2 separate regions of the Homo sapiens genome follow, and region 2 is linked to region 1. Evidence: fine-mapped expression QTL. Tissue or cell type: whole blood. Region 1 holds a variant in brackets; the other region holds the start of a gene. All regions are shown on one strand. Distances are between the middles of the regions.

Region 1 (8,103 bases):
GTGTGTAAGCATGCATGGAGGCCTCGAGGCACCACAACAAGGCCAGGTTCTTAGCACATCCTCTGTTCTCTACCTGTCATGCTTCAAGAGTTCCAGCTGGCCTGCTGTGAAGCCAGTAGCTATTTTAAAAGTGCTGGCTGCAGGATTAAGCCAACCCTTTACAACTGGCCCAGACCGTAATGGCCATTTCTTCTTAAAAAAAAAAAAATTTTTTTTTTTTTTTTTTTTTTTTTTTTTTTTTTTTTTGGTGTGTGTGTGTGTGTGTGTGGGGAAGGGTGTGGGTGCTGGGATGGGGGTGAATTTCAAGTTGAAACACGATGATGTGGTCTGCTTGCTCTCTGCTTAGACAGGCTTTAAGACCAATTGGATTTTCATGGAGGCCAGGACAGAGAGTGGTAATTGATGGCTTGTGTACAGACAAGCATTTATCCAGGTTGCGTTATCCAAACTGATTTGTTAAAGCTCCAGGTCACGTTCTTACACTAAGAAAATCATTCAGTAAACATGAGACAAGTTTAGGAAAAACTAATAAAATAAACCTGTCTTAAACTTGAATGGTTTCCTTAATTCCATAATGAAGGCTGCTGGGTGTGTGTGTGGGGGTGTGTGTGTATGTGTGTGTGTCTGTGTGTATGTGTGTGTGGGGTGGGGGCGGGGGGTGTGTTTTCAATAAAAATGTTCTCTAGGAGTAGGAACCCTCTGAGCTAAATTTCACTTAACATCCGTTGAAGACTTCCAGTCTGAAGAGTGACAGCTGAAGCACACTGCCTACTTTGTGAGAAAATGTTGCCTAATTTTTCTGTACTCAAACTCTCCAGTTGAGTCTTGGCCCAGTTCCTTTGGTGTTAGGAATCCTTGTCTTGCTCCTGTGACTGGGCCTTACTTTGAGGGTTTTGTTAGCAGAAGGCGGGGGTTATGGCATAAAGGTAAGTGCTAGGACTTACACCTGGCCAAAGAACAGCGCGGTCCAGAGTGTGCTAGAATAGTTGGCGCCACTGGATGTGTGGTGTGGCTGCGTGGAATGTGTGTTGGTGTATGTATGTGGTGGTGATGGGTGTTTAAAGGGCACTAAGCCAGTGAAAAAGACCTTAACTGGATAAGGCATGGGTCTAGACGAGGAGGGGTCAGGGGTCTTGTTCCCTGGGTCATGCCCCTTGCACAGTCCTAGTCCTCTGGCTGTAGGAGCAGCTTACCTGCCAGGGCCTACCCAGGGCCTATTGTAGCCACGTGTCTGAGAAACGTGTGTCTAGTAGGTTTGGTTTCCTCCTGAGCATGTAAGTGGTTTCTGTAGGGGAATTGTTAGATGTGGTAGAAAGAGCTGAGATAGCTGGGTGTGGTGGTGTGCACCTGTGATTCCAGATACTTGGGGGGCTGAGGCAGGAGGATCACTTGAGCCCAGGTGGTCAAAGCTGCAGTGAACTGAGATTGTGCTATTGCAACTCCAGCCTGGGTGATAAAGTGATACCCTGTCTCCTTAAAAGGTGGGGGCCTGAGAGATCAGGGTTCTGTTGTGGGGCAGTGGGAGCTGCTTTGCAGGGGCACAGGGGGCCTGGGGGTTGTTGGAGGTAGTGGGACTTAGTCCACCTTTGAGGGGACAGCCAAATGAAGGGGAAAATTGCTGGTTTTGGTACCTGCAGGAAGAGGGAAGATGTAAGCATGGTTCCAGCTGAAAACCATGCTTTAGAAGTTGGGATAGTAGTTACTCTTTGTGGAGTAGTGACAACATGATGTGAGGCTTGGTGATGCTTGTTTTTTGATCTGACTTGATAGTGTACTCATGTACACTTGATCTATTTCAATAATTTTAAGTGGCTTTAACAGAAAGGTGTGTATTTTTTTTTTTTTTTTTTGAGATGGAGTCTCGCTTTGTCACCCAGGCTGCAGTGCAGTGGCGGGATCTTGGTTTACTGCAACCTCTGCCTCCCGGGTTCAAGTGATTCTTCTGCCTCAGCCTCCCGAGTAACGGACTGGAGGCGTGCGCCACCACGCACTGCTAATTTTTGTATTTTTAGTAGAGACAGGGTTTCACTGTATTGGCCAGGCTGGTCTCGAACTCCTGACCTTGTGATCTGCCCACCTTGGCCTCCCAAAGTGCCAGGATTACAGGTGTGAGCCACCATGCCTGGCCTACATTTTTACACACACAATGTAGGTTATAAAACTACATAGCCTCTCATGTTTTGAAAGAACATTAAATGGGTTTGCAATAAAAAAGCCAGAAGGATTTTCCCAGATGAAGTGGTTTTTAGGGTGGGATTGTGGGTGATTGTTTATTTTTGCTTGTTTCTGTTTTCAGAGTTTGCTACAATAAGCATTTAGGGCCAGGCATGGTGGCTCATGCCTGTAATCCCAGCCAAAGTGGGAGGATCTCTTGGGTCCAGGAGTTCAAGACCAGCCTGGGCAACATGGGGAGACAAGCCCCTACCCCCCACCGCCTCCTGTCACTAATAAAAGCATTTAGGAATTTTATAATGTTAAGAAAACTAGAAGTGTGTTTTAAGAAGAATGGCTCCAAGGTTTCAAACCTAGAATACGGGATATGATTGTACATGTGGAGCTTCTAGTCTTGAGTCATTGGAGATGTGGTGGGAGTTTAGATTGAGAAGTTTTCCTGGGTGGGGTTGAGACATCGAAGCTCCAGGTGGGTGTGGATGGAAGCTTTTGGGGCTGGAGTCGTGTTCCTCATTGACGGGATGAAGGCTTGTGTTGAGATGTGTTAGGAAGAGGAAGTAAAAGCTTTGAAAGAAGGAACTGCCAGAGAGGAGTTATGATGCATAAAGCATGTTGGGAGGAAGGGAGCTAGAGATGTGAGATGTGGCAGTGGCCAGCAGGGTTAGATGCTTCAGTAGGGTGGGAGCTGGGTGGGGTGAAGGGGCTTGAGGTGAGGCTGCAGGTGCTGAGTACTTGGTCAAGAAGCTTGGCCTCAGCCGCCCCGTCCGGGAGGGAGGTGGGGGGGTCGGCCCCCCGCCCGGCCAGCCGCCCCGTCCGGGAGGGAGGTGGGGGGGGTCAGCCCCCCCGCCCAGCCAGCTGCCCTGTCCGGGAGGTGAGGGGCGCCTCTGCCCGGCCGCCCCTACTGGGAAGTGAGGAGCCCCTCTGCCCGGCCAGCCGCCCCGTCCGGGAGGGAGGTGGGGGGGTCAGCCCCCCCGCCCAGCCAGCCGCCCTGTCCGGGAGGTGAGGGGCGCCTCTGCCCGGCCGCCCCTACTGGGAAGTGAGGAGCCCCTCTGCCCGGCCAGCCGCCCCGTCCGGGAGGGAGGTGGGGGGGTCAGCCCCCCCGCCCAGCCAGCCGCCCTGTCCGGGAGGTGAGGGGCGCCTCTGCCCGGCCGCCCCTACTGGGAAGTGAGGAGCCCCTCTGCCCGGCCACCACCCCGTCTGGGAGGTGTGCCCAACAGCTCATTGAGAACGGGCCAGGATGACAATGGCGGCTTTGTGGAATAGAAAGGCGGGAAAGGTGGGGAAAAGATTGAGAAATCGGATGGTTGCCGTGTCTGTGTAGAAAGAAGCAGACATGGGAGACTTTTCATTTTGTTCTGCACTAAGAAAAATTCCTCTGCCTTGGGATCCTGTTGATCTGTGACCTTACCCCCAACCCTGTGCTCTCTGAAACATGTGCTGTGTCCACTCAGGGTTAAATGGATTAAGGGCGGTGCAAGATGTGCTTTGTTAAACAGATGCTTGAAGGCAGCATGCTCGTTAAGAGTCATCACCAATCCCTAATCTCAAGTAATCAGGGACACAAACACTGCGGAAGGCCGCAGGGTCCTCTGCCTAGGAAAACCAGAGACCTTTGTTCACTTGTTTATCTGCTGACCTTCCCTCCACTATTGTCCCATGACCCTGCCAAATCCCCCTCTGTGAGAAACACCCAAGAATTATCAATAAAAAAATAAATTAAAAAAAAAAAAATAAAAAAAAAAAATAAAAAAAAAAAAGCAAAAAAAAAAAAAAAAAAAGAAGCTTGGCCTCTGAAATGAGGCATCAGTCTGCGAGAAAGGAGGTTGGGCAGTGTCCTGTGTGTAAATGGGGATGGTTCCCACCACTTACTTGAGACCATTGGGAATCTTGGAGTTGCCAGTACATTCCTTGGATGTACTTGGCTTTGGCTGGGGCAGCCCTGGGCCATGACCCTCTAACCTGGAATGCCACTGTTTTTGTGAACTGCTATTTTGAGCAGATATTGCAAGAAGTGTAGAAACTAAAGAGGTGACTTCTTAAGCATCAGTCTAGGAGGCAAATAGGGAAAATGGCCAAGTTGAGGTACAAGCAACACATCTGGAAAGATAAAGGAGGGTGTAAATTTCTGGAGGATCAGGGAAGGAAAGACCTCAGAGTATTTAAAAAAATACAGAATGCTTTCCAGATTTGCTCAATATCCATGGGCAAGTGCCAGGCTAATCCTGACCTTATTCCTCCAGTTTCAGCACACGTCATTAGGACAGGGTGAGTAGAGACTCTTTACTCTCCCTTCGTAAGTGGCATTCGCCAGCTTCAAACACAACACAGAAAAGACTACAGAAAGCTGTGTTTTTATCGGGCCTGTTCACTAGTGTGTCTGGGTTTACATCCTTCAAGGGCGAGATGGACTATTAGATTTGGAGTCCTGGATCAGTTGAGGGAGAGAAAGCACTGCAAGTACTTTATCACAAGTAAGCAGACCTTTACTCACCACATACTGGAGGTCTCCCATTTTTTTTTCTACATGAACTTTAAAATGTATTTTAAAATATCTATTATTTAAATTAGACTCAGCTAATGCTTGCAGAAGAGAAAGCTGGAAACAGATGGTCTTGGAAGACCAGTCAGTGGCCCAGCTTCCAGGATGTAAATCCCAGCAAAGGATTTCTAAGGATGAGCTGGGTCAGTATATATTCCACAAAAGGATGGTTCCAGTTATAGGGTACCTTTCAGGAGTGCCAGTGGGGAGCTTTGTAGGACC[C/T]GTGTAAGGCTGCCATGAGGAGCCGGTGAGCTGTCTGGGTTAGGAAAGTTGAAAGGGCCCATGCAGTGGTAAAGGAGGCCGCAGCATGAGTGAAGGTCTTTCCTCTGTGACTGGTCCTGTCCTTGTCTTCTACATCCCACAACTGAAGGAGGGACTCTGCCTGGGTTACAGCTGCCTCCGTGCAGCCCGGCAAGAAGCAGGGAATGGAGAAGGCGCTCAGTGAATACTTGAAGGCAGAAATGCAGTATTTTACTGTTTTCTATTATTTTCAATGAGGGGAAAAACGGTAAAACTCTTTTTGAAGTCATCAGACCTTCCATTTTTGGGGATGAGGAAAGAGTCTCACAGAACGGGTGGATGGCAGAGCCAAGAATTTTAATGCCAGCTGTTTTGAAGAGTGCTACTTTTCTGGAAAGTTGTATGGCTAGACTATGGGGCTTTTGCCTTCCAAGAAGTCGCCCTGAGTGTAGCATTAGTTGGAGTAACACTCCCTAAGAATCTGACGTTCCCCTCCGGCCAATTCTGATTTGGTCTTGTGTGAAATCGCAGTGCTTGTGTTGCCACATGGGGGCGCCATCGCTCTTCCTTTGCCGTGGTGGTTGGTTCCGTGCGTAGATCAGACTTCACTCCTTGAGGAGTCCCAGAAGTTTGGAGAACACAGACGGCCACCTCCTCTCCTTCTGGGTAGCTAAAAGCAAAATAAGTATGGTTTAACAGAGTCCTCAAGCTAGCAAGCAGGGGCTCAAGCAAGAAAGTAGGCCTTTTGCTACTAATCTCTTAGGTCCTTACCACCCAAAGTATGACATCACTGTTAAAAAGAAGAATCTTGGACTGCTCCCAGACCTCAGGTAGATCCCAGCCCAGTGCTTCTCAGTATACCTGGGGATCTTGCTAAAATGCAGATTCTGATTCAGCAGGTCAGAGTGGGGCTGAAGAGTCCATTTTTTTTCTTTTCTTTCTTTCTTTTTTTTTTTTGATGGAGTCTCACTCTGTCACCCAGGCTGGAGTGCAGTGGCGCGAGCTCAGCTCACTGCAACCTCTGCTGCCCGGGTTCAAGCGATTCTCCTGCCTCAGGCTACCAAGTAGCTGGGATTACAGGTGCCTGCCACCACGCCCGGCTAATTTTTGTAGTTTTAGTAGGGATGGGGTTTCACCATCTTGGCCAGGCTGGTCTTGAATTCCTGACCTCGTGATACACCTGCCTTGGCCTCCCAAAGGGCTGGGATTACAGGTGTGAGCCACCATGCCCGGCGAAGAGTCCATTTCTATCAAGTTCCCAGGAGATGCCTATCATGGACTGTGCTTTGACTGAGAAAGACAACCTATAGGAGCCTCAGTTCCTTCGCCTGTAAAACGGGGGTAACACCAGGCCTGTCCGGCATGTGAGATGATGCATGCGGAAGGCACTGAAGACAGGAAGAACAAAGGTATTGCTCACAACAGGTGTGCAACTTGCCCTTTAAAGTGCAGAGTAGCTGACCCAGACATAAGTAGTCCGAGTTACCATAGCCTCCTGGCCTTTCTTGTCCTTACCCCACCAGGAGCCCAGGCTCCAGAGGAACAAGGTAGAAAGTCAACCTAAGAACCAAAGATGTACCGCCCTCCCGTGTGACATGGTCATAGTCCCCGGATGGGGAGGGAGTGCTGCTTCCTGCCCCTGGGGTGACACGTGAATCCATCCCACCTGGATGGAGGAACGGAGGTCCCTCTTTCCTTTTGACTTGAGCCAGTCCAATGGACTCAGCCTCGTGTGATCCTATTAGTAGCTTCAGCAAGGAGCAGGAACAACACACTGACCCCTGTTCAAGGTGGAGTTCTGTAGCTGTGGGTAGAGACTCCTAGAAAGCAGCGATTTGCCTCTGAATCCTGGACATCTGCTGTAGAAAAGTGAGGAAGAGCTTCAGAATGCCTGGGCTCCGTGTGAGGCTCCTGAGGCCCAGTTTTATTTCCTTGCCTAACTTGTGGTGGAGAGGCCAAATATGCATGGCATAAAAGAGACAAGAAGGCCGGGTGTGGTGGCTCATGCTATAATCCCAGCACTTTGGGAGGCTGAGGCAGGTGGATTGCCTGAGGTCAGGGGTTTGAGACCAGCCTGGCCAACATGGTGAAACTCCGTCTCTACTAAAAATACAAAAATTACCCTGGTGTGGTGGCGGGTGCCTGTAATCCCAGCTACTTGGGAGGCTGAGGCATGAGAATTGCTTGAACCTGGGAGGCAGAGGTTGCAGTGAGCCATGATTGCACCACTGTACTCCAACCTGGGCGACAAAGCGAGACTCTGTCTCAAAAAAAAAAAAAAAGACAAGATTTCTTGGTGTATGAGGGTTCCCCCCTTCCTTCAAAGAGGATTGCCCCTTGGCATTCATCACTGTCTACAAGTTCGGTCTTGGTCATCTTATTTTGCAGATTTCTATAATGCCCAATCTGGAAAATGGGCAGAAGAGACAACACAGGAGAGGTGGAGGAGAAAGGGTGGGAGGAATCTCCTTGTGGACCAGCTCCCAGGCTCTCCTTTGAGGTAAAGCAGTGGCTCGAGTGTGCATCTGAATCCCCTGGGGGCCTGGTTACACAGATGACTGGGCCCGCCCTCCAAGTTTCAGATTCCATAGGTCTTCAGTGGGGTCCTGGAGTTTCATTTCTAACAAGCTCCCAGGTGAGCCTGCTGCTTTTGTTCTGTGGATAGAGAGTCCGGGTGACGGGTAAAGGAGAAATAACTGGGGCTGCTGATTCACATCACAAACAGCTGCGGGTGATGGAGGTTGTGGGCGGGAGGTGGAAAGAGCGAGGCTGAGTACAATGGTGAGGAGTAGGAGGAGAGGGAGAGGCACAAGCGTTTCTGAAGAAATGCCAAAGAAAGTTTGGTATCTCTCTGGAACTGTTTCTGAACACAGGACATTGTGTCTTGTGGGCTATGTGACTTGGCCCTAGCTTGGTTGTGGCCAGTGCTAGTGTGTGGAGCAGCTCTTCTCCGGGCGGCTGGCTTATCTCCATGATGCTCCTGGCTCCCTGGCCTCGCTGAGTAGTTGGCACGTCTGTGACTTCTTTATCCACGTGTGTCTTTTTCCTGGCCAGGTGGAAAGCTTCCCCAGGGTGGAGGAGATGTTTGCCAGGTTAAGGTCCCTTCTCTAATGGTACCCACAAGCCAAGCTGCACCCCTGTCTGCCCCTCTC
Region 2 (8,102 bases), 57 kb before region 1:
GACGAGTAAAGGAATTATATTGGTATCAATACAGTGTCTGGCGTAATGCTAGCATATGCTGTAGGAATGCCAGAGACATGGTAATTACCATTATTATTGAGTTATTGGAGTTTTGGTGTTTAAGAAAGGGTTGTTGCTTTGACTAAAAGCATTGCTCCACTCACTGTAAGATCAGGGAAGTCAGAAAATCACCATTATCTGAGCAGGTAGTTTCCTTGTGAAGCAAAAAATTGCAGAAGCTGCTCCAGAGCGTAGGGCAGGATTCCACTGGACACTTGTCAGGGAGAAATATGAGTCCCCAGCTGATGGAGAACCTTTTGTCTTTTGTTGGGCAGCCTATGAACACTGTATATTTAAAAACAAACACTTCTGTGATTGCTTAGGACTAAATTTAATCGTTGTATTTGAGAGTGGCATTTAACAACTTCCTGCTTTTAAAATACTTAAATACCTAAGATACTCTGCCAAATGGAAAGAATTTGTTCTCCGAACACAGTGCCTCCAACATTAAATATTCTGGACACTTCGTTGGTTCGCAACTGTGATACTTGGAAACTTGCCACGTTAGATTCTTCAGGATTCTAAAATAACCTTTTCCTGACTTCATTTATTTAAATATCCCAGAATAATCTCTTAAGCTATAAGTTTGATGATCCAGGAAACTATTTATAGGAGGATGAGTACTCTCTGTGACTGATGGTAGTTATGTTTTATTTTGAGAAGGACAAATCATTAAAAAGATTGATAGGGCTGGTGGTATTTTAAACTGAAAGCAGTACCAAGGCAAACAAGGCAGTTGAGGTATGAAGTTGGAACATAATAAGATATGGGTGTAATTTTCATCAACTTAGCTAAGACCTAGGGAGGTCTTCCAATAGAAGGAAGGCAGAAACAGGCAGTAACACAGACAGTGATCTTTTAGGTCCACTGGACACTTTAGCTTAGGCAGCTCGGGTTGTTTGCTCAGTGATTAACAACTGAGATAAACAGATGGAGACAGGACTCTGTCATAATTAAGGTCAACAGTGTGCTTGGTATTATTGATATTGCCCCTAGGTAGGAGAAAAACAGAGGAAGGAAGGTCAAGGTCAACCTAACTTAAAAAAACTTTAAAAAATTGTGGTGAAATATACATAAAATTTACCATTTTCATCATTTTTAAATGTACAAATCTGTCACTGATCATGCACATTGTTATGCAACTACCACCAGCATCTATCTCCAGAACTTTCTCATCTTCCCAAACTGAAACTCTGTATCCCTTAACTCTCCATTTCACTCTACTTGTGAAACCGCTTTTCTGTCTTTATGTAGTTTATTGTAGGTGCCTGATACAAGTGGAATCATATTAAATTTTGAATATAAAATTAAAAATTAAAAAAAATTAATTTTGATTTGTTTGGCTTTCCACTTAGCGTATTTTCAAGGTTCATTCATGCTGTAGCATTTATCAGACTTTCATTCCTTTGTCTTTTCAAAGCTGTATAATGTACTGTTACGCGTATACACTAAATTTAGAAAACTCATTCATCTGTCAATGGACATGTGGATTGTTTCCTCCTTTTAGCTACCGTGAATAAACTACTATGAACATGGGTATACAATGTACAAATATGTCCCTGCTCTCGTTTTTCCAAAGGCTGTTCCTGGCTGCCTCTACTCTTTTTATTCCCAGTACCCTTTTACAGGTAGCACCTGGTACTTGTCTTTGAAGAATTAACAGGTTTTAGTTAGGCAAAATGTGAGAACAGTGTGGCCATTTGCAAGTTTTAATGGTAATCAACCCGGGTTTGGGGTTGCTCCTATAGAGTGAAGTACCTCCGGAGGTGGCAGGAAATGCAGGTATTTAAAGGGAAGGGCATACCAGGGCAATGTAATTTCTTCTTTGCTCATTCACTTTTAAAATGGCTGAAGGGCAGGTACTCTAGCCTTGAGACCTTCAACTCATGATGTACCCTCCAGCAACGGAGAATTTCTTTTTAGTCCTTAAACTATGGTCTCTATTGCTAGTTTTCCAAACTTGAACACAGCCTTTTCCTTTTCTGGGAAGTTGTCCTAGTCTCCACCATTCTGTGCATATAGCACTCGCCATTCTGTACTGGGGTCACCTTTACTTGTTTAGCCACCCTCATGATGGGGATGATCCAGGTTTTGCAGAGGTGAAACTTATATACCATTGGGGGGCCCTACAAATACACAAAACAAATAATTAAAACGACAAATCACAACACATTACTAGAGACTTGGAGATTCAGATTCTCCTTAGATCTCTCTGGGTAATTTATTAGAAATGCTTACATAGATTTGCTTCCTAATCTCAAGCTGGCTTCCCCTCTCCACAACTCAGCAACTATCTATTCTCCCAGGAGGCCATACAAGCGAGGGGCCCTGAAGCTTAACATTTATTAACTTCATGTAAAGGTCTGAGCGGACCTTTCAGGCCAGGCAGCGTGTCACTTGCCTGTGTTCCTTGTTAGGGCCTACCACCGGGTAGGTGCTTGGAATGTGCTGTGGATTAAAGGCTTAAATCCTGCGGGCCCCTCAATCTGATCTAAGGACATGAGTGGCTTAGAGAACGGCGCAACAAGGCTAAGCGAAAGAAAACAAAGCGGTGTGGCTGGGAGTGGGCTCCTTCCCTCCGCTGGTGAGGGTGCGATCTTAGACTCTTGAGAGAACCCGACATAAAGGCCGCGTTCCAATGGCGGCCTTCTCCCCTACCGGCCAACCTGCCCCGAAAAGAGCAGAAGGCACCCTGCGGGATCTGCAGATCAGCTTGCGTCTCATTCTGGGGCACCGACACGGTGGAATGCAAGACACCCCACTACCGGAAGTTTCTTTGATGTTAAGAAAAACGGCGGAAGTAGGCCGCAGCGCTTCCTCAGTATAGTGCCTCGAGCTGGCTCGCCTACTTTCTACGGTAAAGGGAGGTGCTCCACATCTCTATGCAGCTGTGCAGCGCCGCAGGTTCCATGCGCAGGCTCGGTTGGCTAAATGCGCTTTCCAGCCATCTTTCAGCCACCCAGTCCTTTCCCAGGTTCTCGAGCCAGGACGTGACGTATTCAGACGTACTGGGGGCGGGGCCTCAAGGGGAAAAGCGCCTGAGCCGGGATATCGCGAGAACATCCCGTTCTTTCGTAGCTCTGGTGCTGCGGCTCCGCTCTCGTCGCAACGAGATCTTTCGAGATCTTCTCCGCCCCCGCTACCGGCGCCTCCTCTGCGGCCACTGAGCCGGAGCCGGCCTGAGCAGCGCTCTCGGTTGCAGTACCCACTGGAAGGACTTAGGCGCTCGCGTGGACACCGCAAGCCCCTCAGTAGCCTCGGCCCAAGAGGCCTGCTTTCCACTCGCTAGCCCCGCCGGGGGTCCGTGTCCTGTCTCGGTGGCCGGACCCGGGCCCGAGCCCGAGCAGTAGCCGGCGCCATGTCGGTGGTGGGCATAGACCTGGGCTTCCAGAGCTGCTACGTCGCTGTGGCCCGCGCCGGCGGCATCGAGACTATCGCTAATGAGTATAGCGACCGCTGCACGCCGTAAGTGTGGGCCGGGCCTGCCGCGTGCACTGGGGTTAGGAGATAATGCTTGTTCCAGTCTGGGACCCTCGCTGCTTGGGGAACGCGGGCCGAGGAGTCGCCTCCGTTCCGAGCCGAGGTCCCGGTAGGTCAGGGACCCCCAGTAGGTATTAGGACACTAGGGGCCGCGGCCCACTATGAGCGTGGGTGTGTGCTAAGCGCGAGGGCCTTTTCCCCGGTGGCCCGTCGGCCGAAGAAAGGCTTCTGGCCGGTACTCGGACCAGCGGAGGGCACGGGTAGGAACTGGAAGGACTGCAGGCCTAGGATGTAAACGGATCGCGGTCCTTTTCTTGAGGGCAGAGACCAGGCCCAGGTCGTACTGAGTCTTTTGAGTCCAACAGAAAGCTCAGAACTTTGCACACAGCAGGCGCTTAATAATAGTTGAATCGAACGGGTTCTGGGGCTTGCCAGCCGCGAGACCGTGGAGCGGTCAGCGTCCCACGTGAGTGGGGGCGGGGCAGCGCCCGGAAGAGAGCGAGCTGGAGCAGCCTCAGGCACGGGTTCCGGATGGACTCGGGGTCTTGAGATTGGGTTGGCACGGATAGGAATTTAATAAAATCGGTGCTCTTATGATAACTTTGCAATCGCTTTTGTTTTCCACATTATTTCGGGATATTGTGCTATATTGGGTCACTCTCTGTTTTGTGCGCGTTAACCCCTCAATAGGGTTGCACTTTAACGATAATGCATTCTAACCAGTGTGTTGGCCACAATTGTTAGTGGCTCAAGGGCCCGCCTTGACTTCTAGAACCCATAGTAAGTTTTGGGACCAGCATAGACACAGTTCTAAAAAATGGTGGGTCACTCAGGTCTTTCACTGGTTACAGTGTCTGCCTTTTGAATACTTGTAGATACATTTTAATCCGTTGTCGTGTTCTTAGACAAAATCTTGTAAGAAGTTCTGTATTATTTGCCATTCAGGGTCTCTCTTCTTTTTTTTTTTTTTTTTTTCTTTTTTGAGACAGACAGGGTCTCACTCTGGCTGCCCAGGCTGGAGTGCAGTGGTGCGATCTTGGTTCACTGCAGCCTCGACCTCCCTGGCTCCTGGCTCAGGTGATTCTCCCACCTCAGCCTCCTGAGTAGCTGGCGTTGCAGGCGTGCGCCACCATGCTTGGCTAATTTTATTTATTTTTAGTAGAAATCGGGTTTCACTATGTCACTCAGGATGGTCTCGAACTTCTGGACTCAAGCAGTCCTCCAGCCTCGGCCTTCTGGAGTACTGGGCTTACAGGCATGAACCACCGTGCCCTGCCCAGGGGCTCACTTGTTATTGATTGATTGAGATGGAGTCTCGCTCTGTCGCCCCAGGCTGGAGTGCAGTGGCATGCTCTCGGCTCATTGCAACCTCGGCCTCTGGGGTTCATGCGATTCTCCTGCCTCAGTCTCCTGAGGAGCTGGGATTACAGGCGCGTGCTACCATGCCCGGCTAAATTTTGTATTTTTAGTAGAGACGGGGTGTTGTCGAGTTGCCCAGGCTGGTCTCGAACTCCTGACCTCAAGTGATCCTCCCGCCTCGGCCTCCCAAAGTGCTAGGATTACAGGCGTGAGTCACGGTGCCCGGCCCCAGGGGCTCAATTCTAAGGTCCATTATTTTCACCCTCAATTTTTGTCACATTTCTTCAGCAGGTTTCAGCGAAACTAGATTGTTCAGAAGTCTCACATTTCCTTTCCACTTGTCAAATTTCCGCACCCCCCACCTCCTAACCCAGGTGCTTCCCCTGAAAACTCATCCCAGAAGCCAAAACGGTAGTTTGCTGTCCCTTTGCTGAGTTTAGTCTTGTTAACAGCCCTATTAAGGTTTATTTATTTATTTATTTATTTTGAGAAAAGGAGTCTTACTCTGTTCCCTACGCTGGAGTGCAGTGGCGTAATCTCGGCTCACTGCAGCCTCCGCCTCCTGGGTTCAAGCGATTCTCCTGCGTCAGCCTCCCGAGTAGCTGGGATTACAGGTGTGCGCCACCACGCCTGGCTAATTTTTGTCTTTTTTAGTAGAGACAGGGTTTCACCATGTTGGCCAGGGTGGGCTCGAACTCTTGACCTCAAGTGATCTGCCTGCCTCGGCTTTCCAAAGTGCTGGGTTTACAGGAGTGAGCCACCGCACCTGGCACAGCTTTATTAAGGTTTAATTCATATACTATACAATTTAACCAGATGAAGTGATCGTTTTTAGTGTAGTCACAAAACAGTGCAACCATTACTGTAATCAATTTTAGAACATTTTTATCACTCCCCCAAAGCCCTGTGCCCTTTAGCAGTTTATTTTCCCTATTTGTACTTTTTAACAATGGGTAGTCTAACTTGGCATCTCCAGGGAAGTGTATTGTGCCCTGAAGTTTTTTTTTAAGCATTAAAGTTTGTTTTTAAGCATTTTAGTATTTGAGAATATCTTTGTATCCGTGTTTTCTTGGTCTATAAAATGTCTCCCCTAAGGAACTGAAAAGGCTAAAGCGCTGAGTTAATGTATTTAGTGTTTTGGTCCTTTCCTGCCCTGTGATTGAACACGCTTTAGTTCCAAAGGGCGCACAGGAAGAGAATCCCAAGTATGGGGAAGAACAGTGTTCCTATCCTTTCTTTTAGATTATTATCACATGCTCCTGTTTTTCTTTTAGAAAGACAATAGCTACAACAATTATACCATGAATTCTATTTGAAACTGAGTTGTTGCAGATAAAAAATTTGCCTCAAAGACATTGTGATATATATGACCCCATACACCACGGAATTGTGATAAGAAAATTCCATTTAAATAATTTTCCTTACATGTTTTCTTTATATTTTCCTTCATAGTTTTCATTAACTTACAGGCATGCCATACATTTCAAGTGATTTCTGAACTGTATGATTTTGATTCACTTTGATTACTCTGTTTTGGAGTCTTGGGCTAAATAGAAAATGGTAGCAGGAAGGTTGATTTTTTTTTTTTTTTTTTTTTTTTTTTTTTTGGTAGCGGTTATGGAGGAATGGATTTGGAGCTCATATGTAAAAAAGACTGCATGTTGTGGGTTTGTTTTAACATGAGAGTGGAAATGAGATGCAAGTCTTAGAGGGTTTATGATGGTGGAAGTACCTCGTTTCAGATATGGGTGTAACAATCTGGATTAGGTTTTTGAGGAGCCAGTGGAGTCTCATCCAGAAGAGACCCTTGATTTTCCACCCAATTTAGGCTTCCTTCATTTTATCAGATGTTGAGTGCCTCTGATGTGGTAGCCATTTTTCTAAGCACTGGAGGTACTGTGGTGAACAAATAAGGTCATGCCATTATGGACATGGCTGGTGGATTAAACCAAATACTAAACAAAAATATGTAGTAATTACTAACTGTGGTAAAGGGCAAGGTGGAAAAGTACAGAATACAGTGAGAGTATAGAATAAGCGGGTCTAATTTAAATTGGATGGAAGGACCTGGCACGATAGCTCATGCCTGTAATCCCAGCACTCTGGGAGGCTGAGGTAGGAGGATCGCTTGAGGTCAGGAGTTCGCAACCAGCCTGGCCAACATGCTGGAACCCTGTCTCTACTAAAAATACAAAAATTAGCTGGGTGTGGTGGCGGGCGCCTGTGGTCCCAGCTACTCTGGAGGCTGAGGCAGAAGAATCGCTTGAACCTGGTAGGTGGAGGTTGCAGTGAACCGAGATCATGCACTGCACTCCAACCTAGGTGACAGAGCGAGACTCTGTCTCAAAAATAAGTTGGGTAGAAGGTGCTTTGAAAGAAGTACCATCTGAGACCTGAGGATGAGTAGGATTTTACCTTGGAGGTCACAGTAGGTTTGAGGAAGAGTTGTTCCAGGCAGAAGGAACAGCAAGTGGGAAAGACCTGAGCAAGAAGAGCTGCATCCTTGATACATTGAAGAGCAGCCACGACTCTTTCAGCTGCTTGAGAGAATGCTGTGAGATGAATCTGAGGAATTAGGCAGAGCCTTGTAAATAATAATAATGATTTTTACCTAGGTGCAGTGGGAAGATTATTTTTTGACACGGAGTCTGGCTCTGTCACCCAGGCTGGAGTGCATTGTTGCGGTCATGTGCATACATGCGGCTAATTTTTGTATTTTTAGGTAGACGTGGTTTCGCCATGTTGGCCAGGATGGTCTCAAACTCCTGGTCTCAAGTGATCCGCCCGCCTTGACCTCCCAAAGTGCTGGGAATACAGGCGTGAGCCACCGCGCCCGGCCTGTAAAATTCTTTATTATGGCTCTAACACGTTTTCTTCAAACAGGTTATTTCTAACTTTTTGCTGTTACAAATAGTTCTTCAATAAGTAGCCTTACATATTTATGTTGTAATGTTAATGCTTTTATTTTTATTGTATAGATTTCCAGAGGTGAATTTGCTAGGGTAAGGGATATACTGTATATACTTAAAGTTTCAGTAATATTGCCAGAATTCTTTACACAAATATAACAGATTAATTTGCAGTAGGAACAGATGTGATTTCTCTACTTCATTGGAGATTATGAGAATTATAATGAGTTAAAACTATAACTTATACCTTTTTTTTTGCCATAGTGCTCAGAATAATGCCTGGGATTCAGTAAA

Evidence for each region. PIP is the estimated chance that this variant, and not a neighbour inherited with it, causes the effect.
Region 2: HSPA4 starts here. The variant in region 1 is fine-mapped to the expression of HSPA4 in whole blood (INTERVAL, PIP above 0.99).

Annotation. Positions count from the first base shown.
Region 1 is chr5:133,105,895-133,113,997 of GRCh38, forward strand. It overlaps HSPA4 (heat shock protein family A (Hsp70) member 4), which reads left to right. Exons shown (of 19, transcript NM_002154.4): 19 at 1-555. It overlaps LOC105379178 (a long non-coding RNA gene), which reads right to left. Exons shown (of 3, transcript XR_948792.2): 3 at 5,174-5,621. Among named protein-coding and RNA genes, the nearest start is that of HSPA4, 58 kb to the left of the region's middle. RefSeq lists an enhancer at 2,623-2,672. The variant C/T (reference allele first, on the strand shown) is at 4,934.
Region 2 is chr5:133,048,833-133,056,934 of GRCh38, forward strand. HSPA4 (heat shock protein family A (Hsp70) member 4) reads left to right here and starts at 3,181. Exons shown (of 19, transcript NM_002154.4): 1 at 3,181-3,525. The coding sequence starts at 3,419. RefSeq lists enhancers at 2,468-3,430, 2,617-2,666, 2,737-2,786, 2,977-3,156, 4,395-5,357.